Linked DNA regions of Homo sapiens. The protein of the gene in region 3 interacts with the protein of the main gene of each other region in a pairwise test. Each region holds a gene or a part of one and is shown on either strand. Other genes may lie near its edges.

What was found. Proteins that work in one complex are often made in the same cells at the same time.
Region 1: the proteins of HINFP (region 3) and NPAT interact in a two-hybrid assay, tested with the Homo sapiens proteins (2 studies listed by BioGRID).
Region 2: the proteins of HINFP (region 3) and NIPBL interact in a two-hybrid assay, tested with the Homo sapiens proteins (one study listed by BioGRID).

What each region holds. Positions count from the first base shown.
Region 1 is NC_000011.10:108,170,627-108,177,658, forward strand, and holds part of NPAT (protein NPAT), read right to left. Parts: intron 6,465-7,032; coding exon 6,368-6,464; intron 5,749-6,367; coding exon 5,620-5,748; intron 3,226-5,619; coding exon 1,573-3,225; intron 1-1,572. UniProt on the Homo sapiens protein: Required for progression through the G1 and S phases of the cell cycle and for S phase entry. Activates transcription of the histone H2A, histone H2B, histone H3 and histone H4 genes in conjunction with MIZF.
Region 2 is NC_000005.10:36,872,600-36,879,780, reverse strand, and holds the start of NIPBL (nipped-B-like protein), read right to left. Parts: upstream 3,013-7,181; 5' UTR 2,603-3,012; intron 1-2,602. UniProt on the Homo sapiens protein: Plays an important role in the loading of the cohesin complex on to DNA. Forms a heterodimeric complex (also known as cohesin loading complex) with MAU2/SCC4 which mediates the loading of the cohesin complex onto chromatin.
Region 3 is NC_000011.10:119,117,504-119,124,592, reverse strand, and holds the start of HINFP (histone H4 transcription factor), read right to left. Parts: upstream 3,014-7,089; 5' UTR 2,954-3,013; exon of another isoform or gene 2,944-2,953; intron 2,811-2,943; exon of another isoform or gene 2,580-2,810; intron 1,026-2,579; exon of another isoform or gene 909-1,025; intron 1-908. UniProt on the Homo sapiens protein: Transcriptional repressor that binds to the consensus sequence 5'-CGGACGTT-3' and to the RB1 promoter. Transcriptional activator that promotes histone H4 gene transcription at the G1/S phase transition in conjunction with NPAT.

The DNA of each region.
Region 1 (7,032 bases), about 11 Mb from region 3:
TCCTGTCCATAAACAAACTTTTGCCTAATACACTACTGTCAGGTTGATCCCCTCATTTTCATGCAACCTACTACGGTCTCTCTGTCTATGCTGGTGCTGCTTCTCTTTATAACTTACAGATTTTATAAGTTATAAAAACTTCCTTGCTTTAACTCCAAATCCTACCTTCATTCTTTAAGCTTTAGCTCAAGCCCCACATTCTCTATTAATTCTGACCTCTCCTTTATGTAATTTGTAACAGCACGTAAAACAGACCCATTAGGTTTAATACTAATTGTTGATATTTAATGAAATTTTATTGTATGTCTATAATGTAACAAAAAGGGAAAAGAGGGAAGCTTGGGAACCAACACATAAGGAAATGTAAATAAATGTGCCATGAGCACTATCTCTGAGGAACATACAATAAAAAATTATCAATATGATAGGCATATCAATCACTAACTACATATAACACAGCACGCAATAAATGCCACAAGAGCCCCTATGAAAAAAGGATTTTTTTTTTTTTTTTTTTTTTTGGAGACAGAGTCTTACTCTGTCACCCAGGCTGAAGTGCAGTGGTGCGATCTTGGCTCACTGCAACCTCTGCCTCCCAGCTTTAGATTCTTCTGTCTCAGCCTCCCAAGCAGCTGGGATTACAGGTGCCCACCACCATGCCAATTTTTGTATTTTTAGTAGATACGGGGTTTCACCATGTTGGCCAGGCTGGTCTTGAACTCCTGACCTCGGGTGATCTGCCCGCCTCGGCCTCCCAAAGTGCTGGGATTACAGTCATGAGCCACTGAGCCCAGCCATAAACAAAGGATTTTAAAGACAGAGATCAATTAGAAAGGATTTTATAAAGGAAGAAATTCAAGTTTTTTTTTTTTTTTGAGACAGAGTCTCGCTCTTGTTGCCCAGGCTGAAGTGCAATGGCATGATCTTGGCTCACTGAAACCTCTGTCTCCTGGGTTCACGAGATTCTCCTGCCTCAGCCTCCCAAGTAGCTGTAATTACAGGCACCTGCCACCATGCCTGGCTCATTTTTTTGTATTTTTAGTAGAAATGAGGTTTCACCATGTTCTCGAGGCTGGTCTCAAACTCCTGACCTCAGGTGATCGATCGGCCCACCTCGGCCTCCCAAAGTGCTGGGATTACAGGCGTGAGCCACCATAACCGGCTGAAATTCAAGTTTTTCTTGAAAATTTCTCCAAAAAGATGATGAATTCCCTGAAGACCATGACTATAAGAGCTATTTTTAAAAACTCCCCCACAACATTGGGTTTTATACAACTATGTGATGAATTAGTCTGTCTTTTCTGTTTATTGTAACTTACTAGCACATAGATTGAGAAGTATTTGTGAAAAGAAAAAAGAAAAACCACTAAAGCCCATAGCTTACTAGCAGATTAAGAAAAATAAAAAAGGTTTGAATTAGCTAGCATAAAGAAGCAGCGTAATCACAAATTTCAGAATCTTTTCTCATACCATCTACTCATTAGTTATTACTTCGCAGTCAATAACATCACATACAAAAGAAATTAGATCCCAACCCAGAGAAACAAATTTCAATTATGTTATTAAAGTTACCTTGTGAAAAGTTTGGTGACACAGCTTGGTTGACAGCAAATACACTGTTTGACCTTGGTGGTGTCTGTAACTGAGGTGGTAGAGGTTGAGCAGTCATAGGTGCAGAATTTCCAGGCAACACCACTACATTAGACTGACTTACAGATGTTCCTAACGCTGTTGGATCAGTCACACAGGTAGCTATCAGAATGTTATTTGAATTGCCAAAAGCTGTGCTTGTGGCTGGCATCAACTGTATATATCCTCCATCCTTGGAAACACATGGTGTAACATTAGCTGAAAAAGCAATGCCATCTTCATTCTGAGTATTGTTTACTGCAGAGTCTTCAGATTTGAATGTTAAAAGACTCTGTTCCATTGAGGCTGAATCCCCTACTTCGGCATATACAACAGCACCTACAGTTTCTTCTGAAGATAGGCATTTAACTAGTTCTGCATTTTTAGTAGGTGATTTAGTAGGAGAAGACAAGATTATAGTTGGCAGGTTTTCTCCATTAATACTAGAAACAGCACTGGTAAGTTCAGTATCTGAGGAAACAAATGGATCATCACTAATGATAACTTTGAGAGAGACGATATTTGATGCATCTATCTCTGCTGAGTTGTTGCTAGAAGGTTTATCATCAGTATTTTGGGACTCAGGGTGAGAATCTCCCACTGAAGAACACACAGATTCTGGAGGAAGAGAGTGACTGTTTTCTACAGGAGTGCCTTCTGGAGGCGTCAGTGCAACTTTCTCACAGTTAGCATTTCCACCTAAAGAGAGAAAAATAGTATTCTCTTCTTTTACAGAAGATGAAGGCTCCTGTGAATTCTCAGACTTGGATGCCTGAGCTTCATTTTCTGTATGATTTAACTCAACAGATGCTGAATCATTAGATGGTTGTTTAGTAGAAGACAGCGAATCTCCAAGATGAATTTCTACTTGTCCAGATACATTTAAATGTGAACTTTCAACAGACACAGGTAGTATTTCACTTTGAAGACAAGAATTATCTTGGCAATTTGATAGCTGTGACATAACTGGTTCTAACACATTAATTTCTATTTTACTCTTGTGAACTTCACTAGAATCTGATGACTTGGAACCATGAAAATTAATTTTAAGTTTTACTGTATCATTAGAATTTTCACAAAATTGACTTTTTTTAGATGGCTTTCCAGTTAATGAAGTATCTTGGGATAAAAGTTGAGAACTCTTCCCAGAGAGAATTAAGTTTTCATTGTTAGCTTCACAACCAAGTGAAACAAATGAAGTTATTGGTATATCAGGCTGATCAGGCTGTAACTGAGATTCACTCGGTACATTTGAAGACAAAGAGTTCTTTTCAATCCCTATAGCCATTTCAGTTTCAGTGGACATCTGATTGGTGTATAATTCAGCACAATGTGGATTACATTCAGCATTAGAATTCCCTCTTTGGTTAAAGTCATTCAAATTAGGCACGGACTCAAAGGTAATGTCAATGTCACACTTCTGTTCAGTGGGTACAGCTGTTTTAAAGGCCTTTTTCTGTATGCTGGTACTTATTTGGGAAAAATTTTCCTGGTCTTCTTGTCTAAGCACATCATGGTTGTTGCTATTCTTCAAAGCATTTAATGGGTCATCATTCTGATAGGATGTACAAAAAGCGGGCTGACCAGACTGACCATCTGCAAAGTATCAGGCAGGTAGACAGATATGGTAAATATGTTCAGCTTCTGAGGTAGTCATTTTTGCCATAAAACTTATTTTGCCAAGAAAATAACTCATCTTTGCATACCAGTAAGTGGAAGTCTGATACGCTGTGTTTCCCATTTACTGAGTATCAAAAAATTTACAGGTACTTTCTAGTTACTGATGACTTTTTACACAAGTGTCAATTTGTTTTCCAAGCTTGGAAGACAGATGATACAAAGAAGGAAAAAGTAAAGAGGTTTAATATTTCAATAGGTAAAAAACATACTGGCTCCAAAAATGAAGTTTATTTTGAAACACTAACTTTTCAACTTCTAACATTTCTTCTGACTTTAATTTATCTACTGTCTCGGCCTCCCAAAGTGCTGGGATCACAGGCATGAGCCACCACACCCAACTTATCTGACATATTCTTAAAGGTGAGATGGGGCCAAGTACATTTTGCATGATTGACACTTGATCTCATTGTGTACTGTTTAACATTAAACACATATTTACTGAAGACCAACCATACTTGGTTACTGGGATACAAAGATGAATGATCCAATCTCTAATCTTGGAGAGGTTAGTCAAGGAACCAACTATAGAACAGAAAGTCATAAGAAAGCATGGTAAAAACTGTAACAGCATAGGAACAAAAGGTACCATGAGAAAAAATTATAAAGGAGGCACTGTATGAGAAGATCTTAAAAAAAAAAAAAAAAAAAGAGTATGATATGAGTAAGGAAAGAGTATTTCCTTTTTTTTTTTTTTTTGAGACAGAGTCTTGCTCTGTCGCCCAGGCTGGAGTGCAGCGGTGCGATTCTCAGCTCACTGCAGCCTCTGCCTCCCGGGTTCATGTGATTCTCCTGCCTCAGCCTCTTGAGTATCTGGGATCACAGGTGCGCGCCAGCCACCACACCTGGCTAGCTTTTGTATTTTTAGTAGAGGCGCGGTTTCACCGTGTTGGCTAGGCTGGTCCTGAACTCCTGACCTCAAGTAATCTGCCCTCCCTGGCCTCCCAAATTGCTGGGATTACAGGCATAAGCCACTGTGCCTGGCCTGGAAAAAGTGTTTCAGAAAACAACAATACAGCATTCACAATTTAGGACAGAAAACATTAACTTGAATCAGTATGAAAAATATTTTTTAAAAACCAGAACATTTATGTCAACTAGCATATACAGCAGTCTCCCATTATCTGTAGTTTTGCTTTCTGTGGTTTCAGTTACCTACAGTCAACCAGCCTAAAAATAGGTGAGTACAGTACAATAAGATATTTTGAGGAAGACTACATTCACATAACTTTTATTACAGTATATTGTTATAACTGTCCCATTTTATTATTAGCTATTGTTAATTTCTTACTGTGCCTAACTTTAAATTAAACTTTACCATAGGTATGCCTGAAAAGGAAAAAACAGTAAATACTATATAGGCTTTGGTACCACCCAATTTCAGGCACCCACTGGGGGGCTTGGAATATATCCCCCATAGATAAGGGGGGACTACTCTAATTCTGTTAAATGTGACACTTGCTGCTGAGTACAGAGCACATCTGAATCCTTATTGTGGGGAAAACAGTAGAAATTGTATAGAGGCCACATAAATTCAGGATAAGTAGTTCCTCAGTGAAGTAGGATGACTTTCTCAGAAAACGGAATTTCAAGTTTCACTTTGTACAGGGAAGAACTTAAGTGAAACACAATCTTCTAGACATAATATATACTGCAAAAAACACAACCCACTATAATTCAGCCTAAGAAGAAATGGAGAATTGGACTTGATTGTTGGCAGAGGAATTAAAGGAGGCACACAGTCTGAGATTCTCCAAGGACAGGATGTGAATGAACACTGGAAGCCATCAGATTTTTTACTGGTGGGAGCAGGTGATAACATTTAAAAACAGGTGCACAAAAAACATGTGCCTTAATAAAAATAAATGTTACAGACTTTTGAGCAACTGAACAACATTAATACTAAATTGTACATGTCAAGAATTGAATTATAAAGGAATGAGGTTGAGTGTGGTGGCTCACACCTGTAATGCTACCTCTGCTTCCCAAAGTGCTGGGAGCATCGTTTGAGGCTGCATGCAGTGAGCTATGATTGTGCCACTGCACTCCAGCCTGGATGACAAGAGGGAGACCTTGTCTCAAAAAACAAACACACACCAACAAAAAAAGCTTATAGTAAAAGAATGAATACTGTAAATTTTCTTTTAATCAAACTACCAAAGATTTATAATTGTTTTTAACAGAGAGAAAAATACAAAAATGACCTATAACAATCTGAACAACTTCTACTTCCAAATTAATATTTTCTGCCTTTGAATTTTGAGACTAATATTAAGATTTGGATTGATGATATTAACAAAATTAAATTCTTACCAGATTCTTCTGTTTCAAAAGAACCTTTAACTGCTAGATTAGTTTCATCTGCTAAGACTATACTGGGATTGGATTCCATAGGTTGACTGGAAATACTTTGTGATATATTTTTATTATTCTTTGTTTTGCCTGTTAAAAAGGGAATATGGAAATAATTAAATGACCAAAACAAAAAATAAACATCAATGAATACAGCTTGTTGGTGATTACGCAAATGTTAAACTTCGATTTAGGGTTTTATGGATGTTTAAAAAATGTTGCTTTTAATATCATTTACAAGTACAAAGATTTTCCCACTAGACAGGTGTTTCTTAAACTTTAGCCCAGTAATTTGCATTTTCTAACGAGTTCTCAGATAATGCTGAGATTGTTGGTTTGGGGGACTATACTTTGAGAACTACTGCACTAAATCATAAGATTGAGGACAATGGCCAATTTTTTGTATTCCCTTTGTACGATTCAATTGTGTTTAACACATTTGTATAGTGGTAGACATCAACACATTCCCTGATGACTGGCAAAAATGCCACAAAAATAAAAAACAAAACTACTCTCCACTTTAACAGCTAAAGTTTCTCAGCTAAAAACAAAACAACAAACACTCCTTTAACATATCCATATAATGTTTGATGAAATGAAAACAAGAACTTTTTTAGATACTCTGGGGAATGTTGATTCACTCTGGTTAAGTTACCAAAGAAATTGTAGAAGCCTTTTTTTTCTGTCTTGAAATAAATAGTCTCCTTACCATAGTCAAAGAGATCAAAGAGTGCCTGAAATGCTGGGTCTGATTCTGTCTGTTCCAATATGTCCTGTATAGCTTCTTCAGACATGTGAATTTCACTCTGCAAGAAAGGAGTGGCGTGAAGGCATGATTCTAACTGAATTTATATATATTTACATATTATATATATATAAGACAGGGTCTCACTCTTTTGCTCAGGCTGGAGTGTAGTGGTACAGTGGTAGAGTCACTGTAGCTCACTATAACCTGAAATTCCTGGGCTCAACTGATGCTCCTGCCTCAGCCTCTTGAGTAGCTGGGACTACAAGTGCACCACTATGCCCAGCTTATTTTATTATTATTATTATTTTTGATAGAGATGGGGTTGCTACCTTGCCCAGGGTAGTCCAGAACTCTTGGGCTCAAGTGATCTTCTTGCCTCAGCCTCCCAGAGCACTGGGATTATAGATGTGGGCCACTGTACTCAGCGTGAATAATATGATTTAATACCAGCAAAATAATTAGCAGACACTCGACTATTTCTGACTTTTTATGTAGTAGCATTCCCCCACTCCAAGAAAATTTCCAATGACATGCTCATTTAAAACAAATTAAAACAAAACTAGATAGGTGTTTCCTAATCCTACTTCTTAGAGGTAAGAACTTTGGTGAATATATTCCTAAACATT
Region 2 (7,181 bases), on a different chromosome or scaffold from region 3:
AAGAGAAACAATAAGCGACATTGTTGAAATTTCCTTTAGGTGTATGAGAAAATATTTCTCCAAATAATATAACTAGGATTATAAGGTTACTGGAACACTTCTGATTTCTCCTTTCACTGAATTTTAATTTTTAATGGAAATAGATGATTAGCCACTAGTGAATATTCCAACCAACAGAGGGGAAGCAGAACACTCTACACTCTTTAGGGAAACAAACTATTCTCTCCAACTAGGTTATCAGAGATTTAAAGTTCAAGTTTAAATTTTACAATTTGAATTTTACACAATGTTTTCTCCTTTAAAAATGACGTATTTAATTGGTTTGGACCAAACAAAACATATTTTTAAATTTAAAGAAATGTTTATGCTATCATAATGAAAGCTATCACACAACCTATATTACTCACAAATTACTAAATATGTAGAATTGGGAAAATAAGTTGGGAAGAACTAATTCACTATAACAATTCCAAAGTCTCAGGAAAAAAAAGAATCAATCACATAAACCCATCTCTAACACACTTATTCAAACATCTGCATAAGACAACCTCTAAAAATAAGTTGCTTCAGTTCGTGAAAATTAAGCAAGCACAACTCCTCTATTATCTTTAGTAAAAATATGTTTATCCCTTGAAATAAAAGTTGTAGAGACAATCACAGGAATATATGAAGGCCTTTTAAACATTTATAATGAAGCCCTTACCACCTCCATCCCCAAAAAAACAAACCCTCTGCTTTCTTAAGATGTGAAGTATTCCTCCCGTCTGCATTCCCTCCCTGGCATGCCCCCCACTCGCACACCCCCCCACCCGCAGTAGGCCTGAGGCCCCGTAGCAAACAGTGTCTAACAGGAGCAGGCAGCACAAAGACAGGAATGGGAGATTAGTGGGAGGGAGGGAGGCCGGGATTGGGGCTCAGCAGGAGCTTCAGGCTTTTTAAAATTCAAACTGCTCCCTGACCAATACAAATCACGGACACGCTACTGACTACTACACGGATTTATAGCATTAAAAACATGCCTAGTACGTGACAGCTATATTAACTTCATTCTTTTAAACATTTATCCGTACGTTTGCAGGAAATGTGAAACAATTTATTGTAATCAGGACGCTAAACTCAAAAATAACCTCCACAAAATAACTTATTCTACAGTGACAATAATTTAATGACACAAAAAATATGAACCAATGTAACAAACACTAGTAAAACAAGGGATTTCGCTGAGCAGTGCTGCTTCATTTTAACCAATGAAAGTTTTCCTTCAGCGAATATGAAACAAAATATCAAAACGTGTAACCCAGGTACACTTTTCTAGCAATTTGCCTGACTGAGGAATTTTAAATTGGTGTTTCCCCCTTATACCAACCTACATTATGAACGCCTCCATAAACAAGCTCGAAACACTTAACTTACTCATGAACTAGAACTTGTCAAGTTAGAACTGATATTTTTCTCCAGCATTTACAGATACATTTAACCTATTAAAATGACACCTCTCTCATTACACAGTCAAACATCATGGCACAAACAGCCAATGACAATCCTGGGACCTCAAGAAGAACTGCCCTGACATAAAAGGATGGCACCTTCTACAATTTTTTAACCTCCCAAGGATTTTAAGTATAACTTAATTTCTTTTTTGGAAAAAGAAAAGAAAAGTGGTTTTACCCGTATCTCAGCACAATTCTCAGAACACTTAAAATTCTTTGTATGCTCCTACACGTTTTGGTCAGGAAGTACCTGAGTGTTTTACGTATAGTCGCTTAAAACTGCCCTTACATAACGCATACAAATAGAAAGTGGCAGAGTAAACCTGTCAAGTACTTTATACTTGTCTTTGAATAAAAAGTCCATGTGCAACAACACACTGTCAAAACAACAAGATAAAAGCTCTTGGGGAGGGGGAGATGTGCAGTGTCTACCACAGTATGTTTTTCTGTATTAAATATTCATGTGGACGATTTAATTCTTTAAAAAAGAAAATGAGTCTTTATGAACTTTCCAACGTCCAAACAAGTTTTAGAAAGAGAAAGAATTACCACTGGATCCGCGTCTGAGTATTTACGTTTGTCTCACTAACTGAAACTACTTCCTCCCTTCATGGGGTCACAGGGGGAAGAAGGGAGGTTGTTTGTTTCACTGGGACGTTCCCCACTCCCGGACCGGGAAAGTTGTAAATATGGGGACGATCAGGGCACATTTGCTGTTAGTTGTATTGTTTCCGCCTCCCCACTAGCTACGGCTCCACTCCCGGGCGAGGCCTGTCACCGACCAGCAGTCGCTCCGCTCAGCCCGGAGCTCTCCTAATCCCCGAGCTCAAGTAGATTCCGCTGGCCCGCGGCCTGCACTCTCCGCCGGGCCTACGCCTCCCCGGCCGCCCAGCAGGAGCCCAGTCCCCGCCACCGGAGCCGGCCGGGAGAGGGTACAAAACCACCGCTACCCAAGGCGGCTGCCACCAGAGAGGAGCGAACTCTAGACTCGCCTGTGGAAGAGACCTGGGGCCGCTAAGGAAACGGCGGGGAGGGGAGCGAGGAGGAGAGACGCTGAGGACCTGGCGCCGGCGCCGCCGCCGCCGCCGCCGAAATAAAGAGCAGGAATTTACCTGGGCGAATCGGCGTCTGAATCCAAGGGGAGGCCGAGGCCGCTGTGGCGAGAGACTATAATCCGGGCCGGGAGGGGGGGTGGCTACGGCTCCTCTTCCGTCTCCTCAGTGCGGGGAACATGTAGAGCCGGGGGGAGACCAGCCGAGAAGACAAATCGTTGCTTCTTCTTCCTCCTCCTCCTCCTTCTCCCACATAGAAACACTCACAAACACCCGACCACGGGCCCGAGCTACCGGGGGGGCATCGCCGCGGGCCCGGGAACCAATTCTCCTGTCGGCGGGGGCGTCCCTCCCTGCGGCTTGGTGGTGTCGGGTGAGTCGGTACCGACGGAGGGAGGGGGGGGAGGGCGGGGGGAAGGAGCCCTGTGTGTGTCTCTCTCTCGTTCCGTCTCTCCCTCTCAGAACAAAATGCCGACCGGAAGTGCAGCTGCAGGAATGACTCCCTCCGCCGGCGCCAAACACTAACAACCACCCCCTCTTCCCCACTCCACTTCCGCCACCGCCGCAGCCGCCGCTGCCGCCACTTGGGCTCGCGTCCTCGGCCGCGCCGCGCGGCACCCGGGCCCAGCAGCCGGGAGGCGGCAGCTCTCCTCTACGCCCGTCCCCTCAGGGCGGCTGTGGATGTTGCCAGTATTGTCGATGCTTCAGAGCGACGTTTGCCCTGCGACACAGGCGGGCCGGCTCTCCTCTGTCTTTATTTTCCTGGAGGCCGACAGGAGCGGGGCCCGAGTTCGGTGGTGGTCGTGAGCGTGGGGGGCACTCAGGCCCGGACGGGCTCTCAGGTCGCCGACGGCGGCGGCTGGAGGCCGCGCTGGCTGTCCCAGGTCGTCGTTAGCTTTAGGGAGCCGATCTCCGGGCGGCCCCACAGAGGACGCCCGCGATTCGATGGCGATGATGCCCGTTTTAAATGGTGTCCCTGCAGCCGGGTGGATGGATGGATCGTACACCTTGCCTTTTGAGAGCCGGGACCTTACGCCCGACTGCGTGTTATTTCTGCGAATAAGAACGCAACCTTTGGAGGTGAAGACGACTGTCGGCTGGATTGAATTGGAATCGTGTTTGTGATGATGCGTTTATTTCTGGAAATACGCGGTCTCCGCTGCTTTTGCTTTTTGTCGGCAGAGGTTTGGGTTCTTCTCTAACGGTCAGGATAAAGGCCTGTAGGCGACGCTGCGCGAGCGAGAAGCTCGCCCGCGGCTGCCCGGGCGCCCCCCTCTAGGTGTGGGTGGAGCCGAGCGCGCGGGGAGAACCGCCGGCCCCGACTCAGCCACCGGTGACTGCGGGCGACCCGCGGGCCTGCGGCCAGCTGATTTCAAACATCGTTTTCCTCTTTAGGTTCGGAAAACTGAGGCGCTGGACAAGGCTGGAATACAATATGTGATTATACGTACAGTACTATGGTTGTTGTAGTTTTTAAATTGTAAAACAAGAAGTAACCATTGTTCCACCGTTCTCTATTAAGTTTGTGTAAATTAAAAAGGGGCTATTTTCGGTAAAAAGTGCAGTAGGTAAGCGGAATTTTACTCAACCGGGACGAAATTCGTGTTATATGAATTGTATTGTGTATTTGTGTGTGTACCAGTGCGCTAAAAGTAAGTAGGAAAACTTGCTTAGATTATTCCTTTTGCCTCAGGCCACTCAGGGGGCCAAGATCCTGTCACTCCTTTTCTCTAGGCCCTGCGAATGGCTTCCCGTCTTGAGGGGAGTGAGCCAAAGCCTTGACTGCGGCAGAAGTCCCCGCGCGCCGTTGAGGGTGGGGGCGGGCCTGCCCTGGCATCCTTGCGAGTAGGACTCTTCCCTGAGCGTCGTCCACAGGGCTTGCTCCTTCACCTTCAGGATTTTGCTCGTGTCACTCGGTGCTTCCGCGGCTACTTTTAAACTGAAAGTTCCCTAGCCCCCTTCTCATTTTATCCTTTGGACAGTCTACATATCCATACTTGTTTATCTTCTTATCTCTCCTTCCCCAGTGCAATGTAAGCTCTAAGAGGACAAGAGGTTGTGTTTTTCTGCACTGGTGTTACGGCCCCCGCCTAGAATGCCACACAGTAGATGCGTAGTATGTGGTTAAGGAATGAATGCGATTATAAGGGCCTTGATGCTCCCCCATTTCTGTCTTTAATATGTACTTATATGCTACAGAGAGCTTTATAAAAGATTTAAAACACGTTTATTACAGAATTCTATAAAAATATATTGCTTCTAAACATTGGAAAGCCCTCCACAACACCAGAAACCCACAAATGAGGGATAAAATTTGTTTTTAGGCTTCTGTAAATGAGCATGCCCGAGGACAGTGCATCAAATGATCATATCCATACTGGGCCGATTATGTTTGCTCTTCTGAGTCTCAAACTGCATTCTTCATCTTGTCGTCCTCTGTCTTTCAAAATACATTAAAAGTGAGAATTTGGTTGGCTCAGAGCAAATCCAGCACTATTGGAAAAGTTCATTCAGCAAGTATTTATTGGGCACAAATGGGTACCAGGCACGCTAATTCAAAAGGTGTGTGTTTCTGAGGCTAGAAGGCCTTACATAAAGGACCACATGTGGCTACTTTGGTTGCTACTCAATTATGCTGTCAAGCAAAGCAAATGCTAGTGAAATTTATTTTTAGTTTTCTTCTGAAGAAAAGGTTCAATGAAAGCTGAGGTCAGGCTTGGTGTGGATATTTTAATTCACCATTTAGTTTGCTGTTTGCTTACACTTAGGTTAGCATTAGATATACTTAATCATGATTTTTGAGTACTATAAAACGTGAGAAATCTTATTTCCTAGTGGCTGGAAAAACAGGCTTTTTAAATTAAAATAAGTAAATATATCAGTAAGCTAGAAGCTATGCAATAAGGCTTTGGCTATGGTATTACAAATTTTCATATTTCATGTATTGAATTTTTGGACAAGAAAAGACAGCCTTGATAGGTATTTTATAACCATTAATACAATTAATCAAACATTGTTTAGTAAATCCAATCGTCTATTCATTATTATTTTTCCCATTAATCTTCAGAACAGCTTTAAGTTAATACAGATGACTCAGAATGTGTTTTTCACTCAGTTTCAAAATACCATTATTTCAATTCGCTAATAGAAGCACAATTATCTTCTTGTCTGCTTTCTTAAATGTTACTGGTAAACTAGTAATTTTGCATGTCCAGGTAACTGCAGCTGCTACAGTCAATCTGCTTTGGAAAGTCTTGGCATTATTGTGTCATTTAATTTAAAATTTTTAAGTTTTTTTAGTTTCTTCCCTTATTGAGGACTTATTAGGCGCTAATTAGCTTTATGCTAGACATCTCATGCATGGCAGTGAATGAAAACAACACTGCCTTTGAGGGTTTTAACTTGTATATAGTTTATACCATTTTTTTTCCAGGTTATAGAATCAAAGAAATTGTTTCAATTCATATCACAGTATTTCTCTATTAAATCAAATGGTATTTTGCTTGCATAAATTTAAGTATCCAAGTTGAGATCTTACATAGAATCTGTTAATCTAATATTAGTGTTTTCTTCATTTCATTGTCTTGGGTTTTTTTTTCTTAATAATTATTTTTCCCAATACCATCCATTTGTTTTGCTCTTACATTTTTAAGTCTTTTATGTTCCAAATCAGGTGACTTACATCCTCCACTTGTCCATTGAGGATAGCCCAGTAAACCTTTATTCTGACTTTAAATTGCCTCCTTGCTTCAAGAACTGAGTTGCATGACTCAGTTTTCTTTGCTAGAAATATCCCTGGATAGTCTCGTATGTATTCTTGATCAATGAATTGCAGAAGATTTGATTAAAAATTTTAAATGGATTTCAGGGATAAACTATTTGTATCAAATGTCATCACCAGGAATTTCTACAACTGAAAAATTTGAATTGTTATTTTTATTGAAGAATATTTATCTTTAAGATAAATGCAACTTGCTATAAAATGATAGAAATGAAAAATTTTAGAAAATCATTTTCTACTCACTATTTTATGCCTGCCAGTTATCCTTTGTTAGTGATAAAATTGTCTTTTATGGGAACGAATTTGTTAAAGGTAGAAAAAAAACTGGTAGTGTATGTATGTTTTATAGATTAGACACTACCAAAATTATTTAACATTTAGAATAATTAACTTGCTTTCAGGATGACAGATGACTTAAGAAACTGATGAAGGGTTAATTAAGGATATTGATTTTTAGGGCAGAACTACAAAATTATCAAATCACTTAACACTGTAAATATGTTCCTGTTTCAGGTTTTCAAAGTAAATACCTTAATCAAATTTGGAAATAGTATTTATGGATTTTATTCAACATAGATTATCTATTTTGTTAAAATTATAGAAATGAACAGTTCTTTTCCCATGGATGCCTTTTTTCATCTTGGCCTATTCTGATCCTTTAAGAACAAGCTTTGTCCTTTCATTAATACTTCTCACCTATAATTACGAATTTTCTCTAAACTTGTAGATTTTATTATCCATGCCATCTATTTATAATCCTATGACACTCCTATATTGTTTATGGTTTTTTTGTTTTTTTTTGTTTTTTTTTTTAGACGAAGTCTTGCTCTGTCACCCAGGCTGGAGTGCAGTGGTGCA
Region 3 (7,089 bases):
TTTAACTCAGCACCCCAGTTGTGATGCAAGCAGTTCCAGAAGCATACTTTGAGTAACAATTAAAGAATAAACGAAACACAGAACAGAGGGTGACGTTGCAAGCAAAATTTCTGCTAGAGAGAGGACACTAGCCGGCCTTGGCTCTGTCTCCTGAGTGTCACCTTCTCCTCAGGAATTCTCACGGATTCTTGCTGACCCCACCATGTTGCTCTCTCTGGCCTACCTGAGACAGGTGGGAACTCTGAAAAAAGGCCTTTACTGAATACTAAAAGGAAAAAAAACAGAAAATACGAAAAAACAGAAGATCCTTCATGCCCCCAATACAGGCTTTTCTGAACCCACTATACCTACTGTACCTACATAGCCTTTTCTCCTCCTCAGAGAAGAATCCAGTCATCCTTAACACTCTGGGGTGCATATAGGGTTGCTGAGCTGCTCACAGACTACTAGTGAATCCCTATTACAAATATTGACTGCTGGGCCGAGTGCAGTGGCTCACGATCTTAGCACTTTGGGAGGCTGAGGTGAGCAAATGGCTTGAGCTCAGGAGTTTGTGACCAGCCTGGGCAACATGGCAAAATTCCGTCTCTACTAAAAATACAAAAATCAGCCGGGCGCAGTGGCTTATGCCTGTAATCCCAGCACTTTGGGAGGCCGAGGCGAGGGGATCACAAGGTCAGGAGATTGAGACCATCCTGGCCAAATACAAAAAATTAGCTAGGTATGGTGGCACACGCCTGTAGTCCCAGCTACTATGGAGGCTGAGGCAGGGGAATCACTTGAACCCGGGAGACAGAGGTTGCAGTGAGCCGAGATCGCACCATTGCACTCCAGCCTAGTGACAGAGCAAGATTCAATCTCAAAAAAAAAAAAAAAAAAAAAAAAACAGCCGATGTGGTAGCATGCACCTGCAGTCCCGCTACTTGGGAGGTTCAGGTGGGAGGAAGGCTTGAGCCCAGGAGGCAGAGGTTGCAAAGAGCCAAGATCACACCATTGTACTCCATCCTGGGCGGCAGACCCAGACCCTGTCAAAAAAAAAAAAAAGAAGAAAGAAATATTGAATATTGACTGCTTTTATAATGTTGTGGTAAGAAAAGTAGAAAAAAGCTTCAAAAGTCATAAAATCCCACACCTCCTCTGACTATTACAGTATGAAATGCAAGGCTCTTCTCAAAGTGGTCTCAATTTTACTTCTCCAGTTCTAGGTAGGGAAACGAACATCTATTGAGAAGCTACAGTGTGTCAGCCCTGTGGTGAGTCCTCTCTACACTTCATCTGATGTAAGAGCACCCTCATTCCAATCCAAAGATCATGCTCTTTCTCCCACATGATGCTGTTCTCTGGCTTCCTCACCCATACTTCATTCCCTCTTCCTCTGATTCAATCATCTTTGTCTCTGAATACTCTACATTCTCCTAAAACTCTCTGCCTACGCAAGTTCTTTTTTTTTTTTTTTTTTTTTTTGGAGATGGAGTCTTGCTCTGTCGCCCAGGCTGGAGTGCAGTGCTGTGATCTGGGCTCACTGCAACCTCCGCCTCCCAGGTTCAAGCGATTCTCGTGACTTAGCCTCCGAAGTATTATAGCTGGGACTATAAGCACGCACCACCACGCCCAGCTAATTTTTGTAGTATTAGTAGAGACGAGGTCTTGCCATGTTGGTCAGGCTGGTCCCAAACTCCTGACCTCAAGTGATCCGCCCGCCTCGGCCTCACAAAGTGCTGGGATTACAGGTGTGAGCCACCGCGACAGGCCTACCTATGCAACTTCTATTCGCCTTTCAAACCCCAAAGTCTTCTCTTTGATGACCCCCTTCCCAATTCATCCAGGTACAGCTGGCATATCCCATCTCTTGCCCACGGCATCCACACACATCTTTGCTATCAATGCAATGAAACTTGTTTCCCCTAGACTAGGAGTTTCTCAGGACAGTGGCCATCACTTATTCACTTCTCATTCTCAGATTCAGCACAGAGCTTTGCACACCCCAGGTACTCAATAAATATCAGGAGATAATCACATTCCGGGAAGCCTTCCTAAACTACCCCATCCCTGAATCTACTCTTGCTCCTTAGTTCTATGGCTGGCACAGCTGACACCATAAAACTTCAACCCTATTTTCATGTTGCCATGGTCGTTTTATGTGTTCTAGTCTCGTTTACCCAATTGGACTATAAGAAGCTTCTGAGCAGAAACCATATCACACCTGCCCGTGTCCCTACACTGTGCCGAGCACAAATATTCTAAACATACACCTGCTGTTAGACTGGTGGGTAAGTCCAAGGAGGCAAGCTAGCTGGCGATACAGAATGATCTGAAACCTAGGCAAAACTCCCTGACGCTCTCTGACTGTCCTCCTGTCTTCTTTAATTTCTCTTTCTGTGTCTCTTGTTTCTACTCTGAGGAGATAGGGGCATGATCTTCACTCTACCCTCTTAACACTTAAGAGGGCATATACTGTAACGCAAGACAATGAATGAACTGTGGTATTCAAGAAAAAAAGGGTCCTAAACGCCTAAGAACTCATAATTTGGCCAAAAAGATAAGACTGATACGTGAAGACAACGACCGAAACAAAGTACCCGATGAGGGAGACCAGGACAGAGAGACACCTCCGCGGTCAGGCGAAAAGGAAGTCTCCCCTAAGCAGTGGGGCCCGCACCACGCCTCGAAGGACAGGTAGAATTTGGACAGAAGGAAGGAGACCGTCCCGTTGGGCAAAACCTCTCCACTCGCAGTCCCGCAGGCTTCCCGGAATCCTTCACGCTAAGGCGTGGCGGCGACCGAGTCTCAGCCGCAGCGAAGCCCCTAGACTAGAAAGCAGGGAGGTTCCAGTCGGGGTGAGGGGACCGGACCAGGGCAGACCAGCGTGGCCAAGCGGCAAGAATACTCGCCGAGGTGGCTCGGGAAGAGCTTGGCCTCCTGCAGCCCCTGCAGAGCACATACCCCAGCTTACCGTCTGTCGGCTCCAGGTCTCTTCAGCTCTTCTCCCACCTCAGACCATCTCCGGAGAGGCGCTTGAGGGACGGTCAAGGAAAGCCAATCGTCGTTCTCGGATCCGACTGACAGCCAATGGTAGCTGTGTCTGGCGGAACCCGTGCGCACCAAAACACGGAAGGGGCGGGAACAGTGGGTGGGGCTAGGCGTCCCGGGCGGACAGAGGGGCGACAGGATACGTGCAAAAGGTAGCACGTGACCGCGCCTCGCTGCTCAGGGCAACGCAAAGGCGGGGAGCCTATGGGCCTGAGTTCCCCTAACTGCGCAGGCTCGGCCTCCGGGACCCAACGGGCATGCGCAGGGCTCGCGCCTGGTGCGCAGTGGGGTCTCCCTCACGTGGTTCTTCGCTTTAGTTGGCTGGTTGCGTGGGCCTCGCGGAGAAAAAGGCGTGGGATGCTGCCCAGCGCTGTCGGCCCCGCTCGGCTCAGATTGAAGGTTCTACCCTTTCCTTCAGCCTCTTAGTCTTATTATGTTTTAAATGTTGGTATTATATGTTTCTCTTTCCCCCCAAAACTCGGCTTCCCTTCATCCACTCGTTCAGGTCAGAAAGCTGGCAGTCATCACTGATTCCTCTCACTTCTCACATCCAATCCATTGCCAAGTTCTGTGGATTCTACCTCCTTTTAAAACAGGATATTTCAAATTTATCCCCTTTTGTTTATCTTCACCGCCTCCCCCACCTCCCCTGTCCAGTGATGACCTCCAGGCAGGATTTATACATTAGTCTAATGGGTCCCGCTGCGTGCACACTTGCTTCCTTCCAAAGCATTCTCCACTTTGCAAAAAGCAGACCTGATCAAGTTACCATCTGCTTCAGACAATTCAAAGGCATTCTATTGCTTTCAGGGCAAAGCTCCAAAACCATACTGAGGTTTTCTAGACCCTTCAGCATCTGGGCTCTCCCTGTCTACTTTTTTTTAGTCCTTCTCGACCATATTTCTTGCTCTCCAGTCGCAAATTTCTTTCACCTTTTCCACCACACCAAGCCACCTTTTACCTCTCAAGCCTTGAACTTGTTTTCTTTACCTGGAATAATCCCTTTCTCCTCCTCCCACATTTATTTGACTGACTCCTACTAATTTTTATGGTCTCAGTGTAGATGCTTCTTTTTCCAAAAAGTCTTCCTGATAGTCCTTTCTTGTATTTAACAATACAGCTCAGTCACATTGTATTTGTCTGTTTACTCTCAGTCTGCATTCTTCACTAGACTAGTTCTTCACCTTTATAACTCCATCAGTGGGCCGGGTGTCGTGGCTCACGCCTGTGATCCCAGCACTTTGGGAGGCCGAGGCGAGTGGATCACATGAGGTCAGGAGCTCAAGACCAGCCTGGCCAACATGGGGAAACCCCGTCTCTACTAAAAATACAAAAACTAGCTGGGCATCGTGGCGGGCGCCTATAATCTCAGCTACTCGGGAGGCTGAGGCAGGAGAATCGCTTGAACCCAGGAGGCACAGGTTGCAGTGAGCTGAGATGGCACCACTGCACACCAGCCTGGGCAACAGAGCAAGACTCTGTCTCAAAACAAAACAAAAAACAAAATAAAACAAAAAACCCATCACTCACTTAGCCCAGTGGCTGAAACTCAGTAAGGGTTCAAGACATACTTGTTAAATAATATACCTTAATAAAGTTGGTTAAGACTGATATTTTATTGCATTGTAGTTTTCTGTATCTTCTAATCTAAAAATAAACCTATATAATTTGTACAATCAGAAAACACATTAAATGTTCAATATATATAAAATAAAATTTAAAATGCCATTAAGATAGTAAAGTCATACTTGTGCATAAATTTTGGTTTTAACAACAGTGAGTTATAACTTGGTCCCTATTTTAAAATAGGGTTTTGCAGGGCGCGGTGGCTCATGCCTGTAATCCCAGCACTTTGGGAGGCCGAGGCGGGCGGATCATGAGGTCAGGAATTCGAAACCAGCCTGGCCAACATGGCGAAACCCCATCTCTACAAAAAATACAAAAATTAGCCAGGTGTGGTGGTGGGTGCCTGTAGTGCCAGCTACTCAGGAGGCTGAGGCAGGAAAATCGCTTGAACCTGAGAGGCAGAGGTTGCAGTGAGCCAAGATCACTCCACTGCACTCCAGCCCGGGCAACAGAGAGAGACTCTGTCTCAAAAAAAAAAAAAAAGCGTTTTAAAAAATGTAATTCAAAAGTAACAAAATATATCTTACCAACTTTATTCATTCAAAAATGCATATAGTAGTACTTCATGAAATGCCATCCTCATTTTAATTCAGATTTACACCACTGAAAATAGCTTTTAGCTTTATTTAGCAATTTTATGAAGAAAAAGTTCATTCACAGAGCTGTGTAAACTCAAACATAGGTTACAGAGCAAAAATTTCAGGATTGCTCTGGGATCCATATATATGTTTCCAAAATTTAAAGCAGTGTCATTCTGTCTAGCATAGTTTACTTCTATCTCAATCTGCTTCTCTTGAAAACAAGCCACAATTTTGGCTGGGTAATTCAGACATATCCTGAGATTTGTTCTTTAAAAGCTGCCACAAAAACTGAAAGCATAATTCATACTCATTAAAAGCTGTGGATCCCTTCTGAAAGTGTGAAATGGATTAAGTTGATGAAAATATGTTTCGTATTTTTTTCATTCATTTAAAAATTCCCTATTTTTGAAACGTGATCAGGCTCTTCTTCACTAAAATATGTGATTCCATGGAACTCTGGGCAGCTCAGTACTGGAAGCTCAATACAGATTCCAGTTACCATCTACTCATTCCCCAGGTCCTGTAGAACTCTGAATACCTGTTCTCCCATCAACAAAAGTTTCTTGTGCAATCACAAGTTCACTGTGTTTGGTTGTCGTGTCATACTGGTAGAAAAACTGTTCCTCTGTGAACCACTAAGAGTTACATTTCTTAGACTGGGGAAACAGCTTGAAAAATCTCTTTGAATTTTCATGACTTAGAATTGAACATTTCACTACATAAAAATCAACCAAATCGATGTGTCCATCAATGGAGGATTGGATAAAGAAAACGTAGTTAATGTAGTGAGTGATAAAGAAAATGCAGTTTATAAACTCCAACTTGACTTTAATAAATTAAATTCCAAGCTGTCACACAGCAATGGACATCATTATCATCGCCCAACACACACACACACAGTGGAATACTACTCAGCCATAAAAAAGAATGAAATCATGTGTTTTCCAGCAACATGGGTGGAACTGGAGGCCATTATCCTCGGTGAAATAACTCAGAAACAAAGTCAAATATGGCATATTCTCATTTATAAGTGGGAGCTAAATAATGGGTATACATGGACATATAGAGTGGAATAAAAGACATCGGAGACTATGAAAGGTGAGAAGGTGGGAGGAGGGTGAGGGTTGAAAAACTACCTATTGGGTATGATGTTCACTATTTGGGCGATGCGCACACTAAAAAAAGCCCAGACTTCACCTCTATGCATGCAATATATGCATGTAAGAAACCTGCACTTGTCCCCCCAAATATATAAAACTAAATTATCTAATTGAAAAAAAAAATCTATACCCTCCATTCTTCCCGGATATCTCATATTTGGTGAGTAGTGTGGACAGGAGCATGGGGAATAGTAACAATTTCCACATGCTATCTACCCAAAGGCATGTGCCCTAAACACCCTGAGATATAGGTAGTCATAGAATGTCAAGGCTGGAAGTGACCTGAATGTTTATCCAGGTCACCCTTATTTTAGATATGAGGAAACTGAGGTCCCCAAAGGAGAAGTTGCCTGCTCAAGATCACTTGGTTTGTCTGTGGCAGACTCAGTTTTCTTGCTTCCTGGTCCTGCATTCTGCCCAATATCCTGTAGCAGCTTACCTGGTTCAAGTCCTGTATAAGATCTCAAGCACGGGAACCAGGGACACAGTTTGCTAGGATCTATCAATCCCTGAAATTTGCCCACATTTCAGAATGAGAGAGCTTTTATTATGTTGAAACACTTCTAAGACTTCCCCCTCCCAGTTTCTTCTGAGGCAACAGTTAACACTCAGCACTTCATTTACTTCTCATCCACAACCAAATGATAGCCATGATGATTGAAGTTCCCATTTTACAGATGAGAAAACTGAGG